Linked DNA regions of Homo sapiens. The protein of the gene in region 2 purifies or fractionates together with the protein of the main gene of each other region. This does not show direct contact. Each region holds a gene or a part of one and is shown on either strand. Other genes may lie near its edges.

Evidence for each region. The genes of interacting proteins can lie anywhere in the genome.
Region 1: the proteins of DNAI2 (region 2) and CCT3 purify together in Homo sapiens (affinity purification with mass spectrometry; 2 studies listed by BioGRID and IntAct, with this or other methods). This does not show direct contact.

Annotation. Positions count from the first base shown.
Region 1 is NC_000001.11:156,328,293-156,331,792, reverse strand, and holds part of CCT3 (T-complex protein 1 subunit gamma), read left to right. Parts: intron 1-3,500. UniProt on the Homo sapiens protein: Component of the chaperonin-containing T-complex (TRiC), a molecular chaperone complex that assists the folding of actin, tubulin and other proteins upon ATP hydrolysis.
Region 2 is NC_000017.11:74,305,042-74,308,891, forward strand, and holds part of DNAI2 (dynein axonemal intermediate chain 2), read left to right. Parts: intron 1-177; coding exon 178-401; intron 402-3,850. UniProt on the Homo sapiens protein: Part of the dynein complex of respiratory cilia.

The DNA.
Region 1 (3,500 bases), on a different chromosome or scaffold from region 2:
CAAAGTGCTGGGATAATAGGTGTAAGCCACCACGCCTGGCCTGAGAGGGACTATTTTAAAATAAGGGATGCTAATTTTATTTATTTATTTATTTATTTATTTATGTTTTTGAGACAGAGTCTTGCTCTGTCGCCCAGGCTGCAGTGCATTGGCGCAATCTCAGTTCACTGCAACCTCCACCTCCCAGGTTCAAGTGATTCTCCTGCCTCAGCTTCCCTAGTAGCTGGGATTACAGGCATGCGCCACCACGCCTGGCTGATTTTTGTGTTTTTAGTAGAGACAGGGTTTCACCATGTTGGCCAGACTGATCTCGAACTCCTGAGCTCAGGTGATCTGACAACCTCGGCCTTCCAAAGTACTGGGATTACAGGTGTGAGCCACTGCGCCCAGCCAAGGGATGCTAATTTATAGTGTTGGCCCACATACCTAAAAATAAAGTTCTTAATCAAAATTATTATTATTTATTTTTCGTAGAGATGGGGTCTCATGTTGCCCAGGCTTGCCTCAAACTCCTGGGCTCAAGCAATCTCCTGCCTCAGCCTCCCAAAGTGTTTTTCTTTTTGAGATGGAGTCTTGCTGTGTCACCCAGGCTAGAGTACAGTTGTGCAATCTCAGCTCACTGCAGCCTCTGATCCCGGGTTCAAGCGATTCTCCTGCCTCAGCCTCCTGAGTAGATGGGATTACAGATGCCCACCACCGCGCCCGGCTAATTTTTATATTTTTAATAGTGACGGGATTTCACCATATTGGCCAGGCTGGTCTTGAACTCCTGACCTCATGATCCACCTGCCTCAGCCTCCCAAAGTGCTGGGATTACAGGCTGTGAGCCACCGTGCCTGGCTAAGCCTAGCTAATTTTTCAAATTATATTTATTTATTTATTTATCTTTGAGACAGAGTCGCCCAGGCTGGAGTGCAGTGGCACAGTCTTGGCTCACTGCAGCCTCCACCCCTGGGGTTCAAGTGATTCTCCTGTCTCAGCCTTTCTGTTAGCTGGGATTACAGGTGCCCGCCACTGTGCCTGGCTAATTTTTAGTAGAGATGGGGTTTCACCATGTTGGCCAGGCTGGTCTCACCACGCCTGGCCTTATTTATTTATTTTTATTTTTAAATTTTATTTATTTATTTTTGTGTGACAGAGTCTCACTCTGTAGCCCAAGCTAAAGTGCAGTGGCATCATCTTGGCTCACTGCAACCTCTGCCTCCTGGGCTCGTGATTCTCATGCCTCAGCCTCCTGAGTAGCTGGGATTATAGGCGCATGCCACCAAGCCCAGCTAATTTTTGTATTTTTAGTAGAGGTGTGGTTTCACCATGTTGGCCAGGCTGGTGTCAAACTCTATCAACCTCAGGTCATCCACCCACCTCAGCCTCCCAAAGTGCTGGGATTACAGGCGTGAGCCATAGCGCCTGGCCCTATTGTACTGCATTTTAAGAATGGTGAGTTGAATAAAAATGTCCTTGAGAGTCACAGTCAACTAGTCCATCTTTAGATCCAGTTCTTTTGAGGATTCAGAACATAGCCAGTTATGGACTTTTAGGGAAAACCTGGAAGGATGAAAGAGGAGGGAGGAAAGATTTCATACTCTTTTTTATTTTTTATTTTTTGTAATAGAACATGAGCTTTACATATCAGAGAAAATTTTCTAGCTGATAATTTCAGTTGAATCATCTAGAGATAGTGGGTAGAATAAGTATCCATGAGTCTAAGTATCTTAGATGTAGATGGATTTAAGAATGTGAAAAAGAACACTTGACCAGCCCTAAAGAAATCTTCTGTTACAGTTCTAATAATTTCTTAATAGGGTATATCCTTTTCTAAGTTATCTTACTCAGGCTTTTGCTTTTTTTTTTTTCGAGACAGAGTTTCATACTGTCGCCCAGGCTGGAGTGCACTGGCGCGATCTTGGCTCACTGCAGCCTCTGCCTCCCGGGTTCCAGCAATTCTCCTGCCTCAGCCTCCCAAGTAGCTGGGGTTACAGGCACCCGCCACCATGCCCAGCTAATTTTTGTATTTTTAGTAGAGACGGGGTTTCACCATGTTGGTCAGGCTGGTCTCAAACTCCTGACTTCAGGTGATCCTCCCACCTCAGCCTCCCAAAGTGCTGGGATTACAGACGTGAGCCACCATGCCCAGCCACTCAGCCATCTTTTAAAATGCAATAATATGCTGCTTAATGATGGGGATATGGGCTGGGCGCGGTGGCTTACGCCTGTAATCCCAGCACTTTGGGAGGCCAAGGTGGGCAGATCACGAGGTCTGGAATTCGAGACCATCCTGACCAACATGGTGAAACCCTGTCTTTGCTAAAAATACAAAAAATGAGCTGGGCATGGTGGCGCGTGCCTGTAGTCCCAGCTACTCGGGAGGCTGAGTCAGGAGTATCACTTGAACCTGAGAGGTGGAGGTTGCAGTGAGCCCAGATCACACCACTGCACTCCAGCCTGGCAACAGAGCAAGATTCCGTCTCAAAAAAAAAAAAAAAAAAAAAGATGGGGATACGTTCTGAGACAAATGCGTTATTAGGCAGTCTCATTACTATGCAGACTTCATGGAGTGTACTTTACAAACCTGGGTGGTACGGCCTACTATACACTTAGGCTGTATGGTATAGCCTATTGCTTCTAGGCCACAAAGCTGTATAACATGTTACTGTACTGAATACAGTTATAATACAGTGGTAAGTATTTGTATAATAAGCATAGCTAAACATAGAAAAGGTACAGTAAAAATATGATATTATAATCTTATGGGACCACTGTCATATATGTGGTCCATTGTTGGCTGAAACATTAAATGGTACGTGACTGTATTTTTTGATTATTTTTCTTTCAATATACATGATTGACACTTTGGAATTGAAACAAAATATATTGAATTCAAACACTGGAGCACATACTAATGAATAACATGTACATTTTTTTTTTTTATTTTTATTTTTATTGATCATTCTTGGGTGTTTCTCGCAGAGGGGGATTTGGCAGGGTCATAGGACAATAGTGGAGGGAAGGTCAGCAGATAAACAAATGAACAAAGGTCTCTGGTTTTCCTGGGCAGAGGACCCTGCTGCCTTCCGCAGTGTTTGTGTCCCTGGGTACTTAAGATTAGGGAGTGGTGATGACTCTTAACGAGCATGCTGCCTTCAAGCATCTGTTTAACAAAGCACATCTTGCACCGCCCTTAATCCATTTAACCCTGAGTGGACACAGCACATGTTTCAGAGAGCACAGGGTTGGGGGTAAGGTCACAGATCAACAGGATCCCAAGGCAGAAGAATTTTTCTTAGTACAGAACAAAATGAAAAGTCTCCCATGTCTACTTCTCTCTACACAGACACGGCAACCATCCGATTTCTCAATCTTTTCCCCACCTTTCCCGCCTTTCTATTCCACAAAACCGCCATTGTCATCATGGCCCGTTCTCAATGAGCTGTTGGGTAGACCTCCCAGACAGGGTCGTGGCCGGGCAGAGGGGCTCCTCACTTCCCAGTAGGGGCAGCCGG
Region 2 (3,850 bases):
GAGGAGCCCGGGAAGAGTGGGGACTGCTCTCCAGGAGGGGCCACAGCCCTTGCCAAGGCTTGATCTGAGGGCCTTTCTAGCGCCTGCAGACCCCCCAAGCAAGCTCCTGTCCATGCCCGCTAATCCCAGAATTGATGGTTCGTGGAGTCTTCCCCTCCTGTGTCACTCCTTCCACAGCCCACCAAGTTCATGGTGGGGACCGAGCAGGGCATCGTCATCTCCTGCAACCGCAAGGCCAAGACGTCAGCTGAAAAGATTGTGTGCACCTTCCCGGGCCATCATGGCCCCATCTACGCCCTCCAGAGAAACCCCTTCTACCCGAAGAACTTCCTGACGGTTGGCGACTGGACAGCCCGCATTTGGTCTGAAGACAGCCGGGAATCGTCCATCATGTGGACCAAGTAAGAGGCGATGCTGGGGACAGGAGGGGATGCAGGAGACAGGAGGGGATGGAGGGAGCCCAGCTGGGCCCCGGAGAGTCCCGAGCCTCCATATGTAAAATGGAGAAAAACCTTTCCACAAACACCCGAGCTCGTGTTAGCAAGTGACTTGCTCCAGCCACTCCACAAAGTGATAAGCTTCAAACACTCAGTTACTAAAAATAATGGCCATGGCTTAATTTTATTTCCTTTTTTTTTTTTTTTTTTTTTTGAGACAGTCTCGCTTAGTTCCCCAGACTGAGTGCAGTGGCGTGATCTCGGCTCACTGCAGCCTCCACCTCCCAGGTTCAAGAGACTCTCCTGCCTCAGCCTCCTGAGTAGCTGGGACTACAAGCACCTGCCACCATGCCCAACTAATTTTTGTATTTTTAGTAGAGATGGGATTTTGCCACGTTGGCCAGGCTGGTCTTGAACTCCTGACCTCAGGTGATCTGCCCACCTCGGCCTCCCAAAGCGTTGGGATTACAGGTGTGAGCCACCGCGTCTGGCTGGCTTAATTTTCATAATCCTCAAACTATCCCCAGGAGGAGGCAGCATTGCTCTTCTCTTCATCTCATTTTTCATGTTAGGGAACTGGGCTACAGAAAGGCCAAGCCACTTGCTCCTGCTCTCCCAGCTAGTGAGGAGCCGAGATTGGGTGTGAACCAAGGAAGCTTGGCTGGGAAATGCGGGTGCCTTGGCACAATTCAGCAGTGAGGCATAGCCTGTCTTGCTCAGTGCCACTCCTCTGAGGAGAGCAACAGACAGGGAGCTTGAGACAGAGCTATGAGCACAATGGTTAGACCAGAGAAGCTTAGACTATCACATCCCCCTCCATTCTTCTTAGGGCCCATTTACCTTGTCTAAAAGTGCCCTTTCTCCTCCTCCCCTTCATCTCCTAAATTAGGTAATAAGCCCGAATTCTAACCACCCCCTTGAGTCATTCACCACCGAGCACTGCCATGTGTATTGTGCATTGCATGTATAAATAATTACTTTTTTCTCTTGCTAAAAAAAACATCCTGGGGTTCCTTTCCTGCCCACAGAACCACAGACTCCTGCAACGTCAAAGCCACCAGCAACCCTAATGAGCATCTTTGGTTCCAGTGCTTCCCAAATCTGGTTGCATCAGAATATCTTGGGAGGAGTTTTTGTTTGTTTGTTAAAATGCTTTTGAGATGGAGTCTTACTCTGTCACCCAGGCTGAAGTGCAATGGCGAGATCTCGGCTCACTGCAACCTCCACCTCCCGAGTTCATGCGATTCTCCTGCCTTATCCTCCTGAGTAGCTGGGATTACAGGCGCACGCCAGCACACCCAGCTAATTTTTGTATTTTTAGTATAGACAGAGTTTCCCCATGTTGGCCAGGCTGGTCTCAAACTCCTGACCTCAGGTGATTCGCCTGCCTCAGCCTCCCGAAGGGCTGGGATTACAGGCATGAGCCACCGTGCCTGGTGGAGGAGTGATTTTTTTAAAATCCAGATTCTCAGCCCCAACCCTGGGGGTACTAACATAGAATCTTGGGCTTAGCCCAGGAATGGGTTTGCTAAGGAGCAACCCCAGGCTTGTGACTCAGCCAGTCCTTGCTTTGGGAGCAGAAACCTGGTTCGATGTCCTCATTCTACAGGGGTGGGAACGCTGGCTGACAAGGGCAGTGCATTGTTCCAGGCCTCATAGCAAGTAGGGGGTTCCCAGTAGATGTGAAGCCCTTTACAGGCTTTAGGAGCCTTCCCAATGTCTTCAGGTCCTGCAGGCTGCCAGGGCTGTGTGAAAGGAGCAGGGTGTCGAGCACAGCACCCATAGGCCTTTCGCAGGGCTGGTTCCTAGAGGGACTTGGTGGACCTGTGTCGTAGAACCTGGGTCTCCCTTGTCCTCCTCCTGCATAAGGTTAAACAAATTTAGCAAATAAGAATATTTGACCCTGGGCCAGGTGCAGTGGGCTAATGCCTGTAATCCCAGCACTTTGGGAGGCTGAGGCGGGAGGATCACTTGAGGTCAGGAGTTCAAGACGAGCCTGGCCAATATGGTGAATCCCCATCTCTAATAAAAATACAAAAAATCAGCTGGGCTTGGTGGCTAACGCCTGTAATCCCAGCACTTTGGGAGGCCGAGGCGGGTGGATCACCTGAGATCAGGAGTTCAAGACCAGCCGAGATTGCGCCACTGCACTCCAGCCTGGGCGACAGAGTGAGACTCCGTCTCAAAAAAAAATAATATTTGGCACTTAGTTAAATCTGAATTTTAAAAAAAAAAACTATTTTTTTTTTAGTATAAGTATGTCCCATGCAATATTTGGTATATACTTATACTAAAAATTATTCATTGTCCAAAAATCTCCAGATGTTTCTTTTTTTGGGGGGATGAAGTCTCTTTGTTGCCCAGGCTGGAGTGCAGTGGCACGATCTTGGCTCACTACAACCTTCACCTCCTGGGTTCAAGCAATTCTTCTGCCTCAGCCTCCTGAGTAGCTGGGATTACAGGCGCCCACCAACACCCCTGGATAATTTTTTTATTTTTAGTAGAGGCAGGGTTCTGCCATGTTGGCCAGGCTGATCTCAAACTCCTGACCTCAGGTGATCCACCATTCTCGGCCTCCCAAAGTCCTGGGATGACAGGCATGAGCCACCGCGCCCGGCCCAGATCCTTTCTTTAGTCTTGATCATTTCTCCCACTGTGGTCTGGCTGTCAACACACTAGGTTTGCAAAGGTGACTGGGAAGTGTAGTCTGCCTTGCTCACCAGGGGCCCAGCTACAACTATATTGCAATGGAGGAAGGGAGAGGAGGTCTGGGTGAAAATCTGAAGGCTGCACTGTGTGTGTGTCCCTTTTAAAAAAATGTTCCGTCTTCACTGAAGAAACTCTTGAAAACCCAGATGAAACCAAGTAGGAAGTGACACTCTCCTTATCTCAGCGGTAGCAGCTTTTCTGGGCATGTCCTTCCTCTGACTCCCATCCGTGAGTCCCAGGGCTGGGACCAGGTCCAGCAACACGTGCCTGCTGCCTGGAGTTAGCAGCAGAGAAATGCCAGTGGCCAGCCCACGGGAAGGACTGTGCCCAGAGCCCTTTCTTTATTTTATTTGAGACAGGGTCTCACTACGTTGCCCAGGCTGGAGTACAGTGGCACAAACATGGCTCACTGCAGCCTCGACCTCCTGGGCTCAAGCGATCCTCCCATCTCAGCCTCCCGAGGAGCTGGGACCACAGGTGCTCACCACCACACCCGGCTAATTTTTTTATTTTTTGTAGAAACAGGGTCTTTCCATGTTGTCCAGGCTGGTCTCAAAATCCTGGCTTCAAGCGATCTTCCTGCCTTGGCCTCCCAAAGTGCTGGGATTACAGGCACATGACCAGCCCAGAGCCCTTTAAAGAACAGCCTGTCAGACACCTGAGGTCAAGAGTTTGAGAGCAGCCTGGCCAACATGGTGAAACCC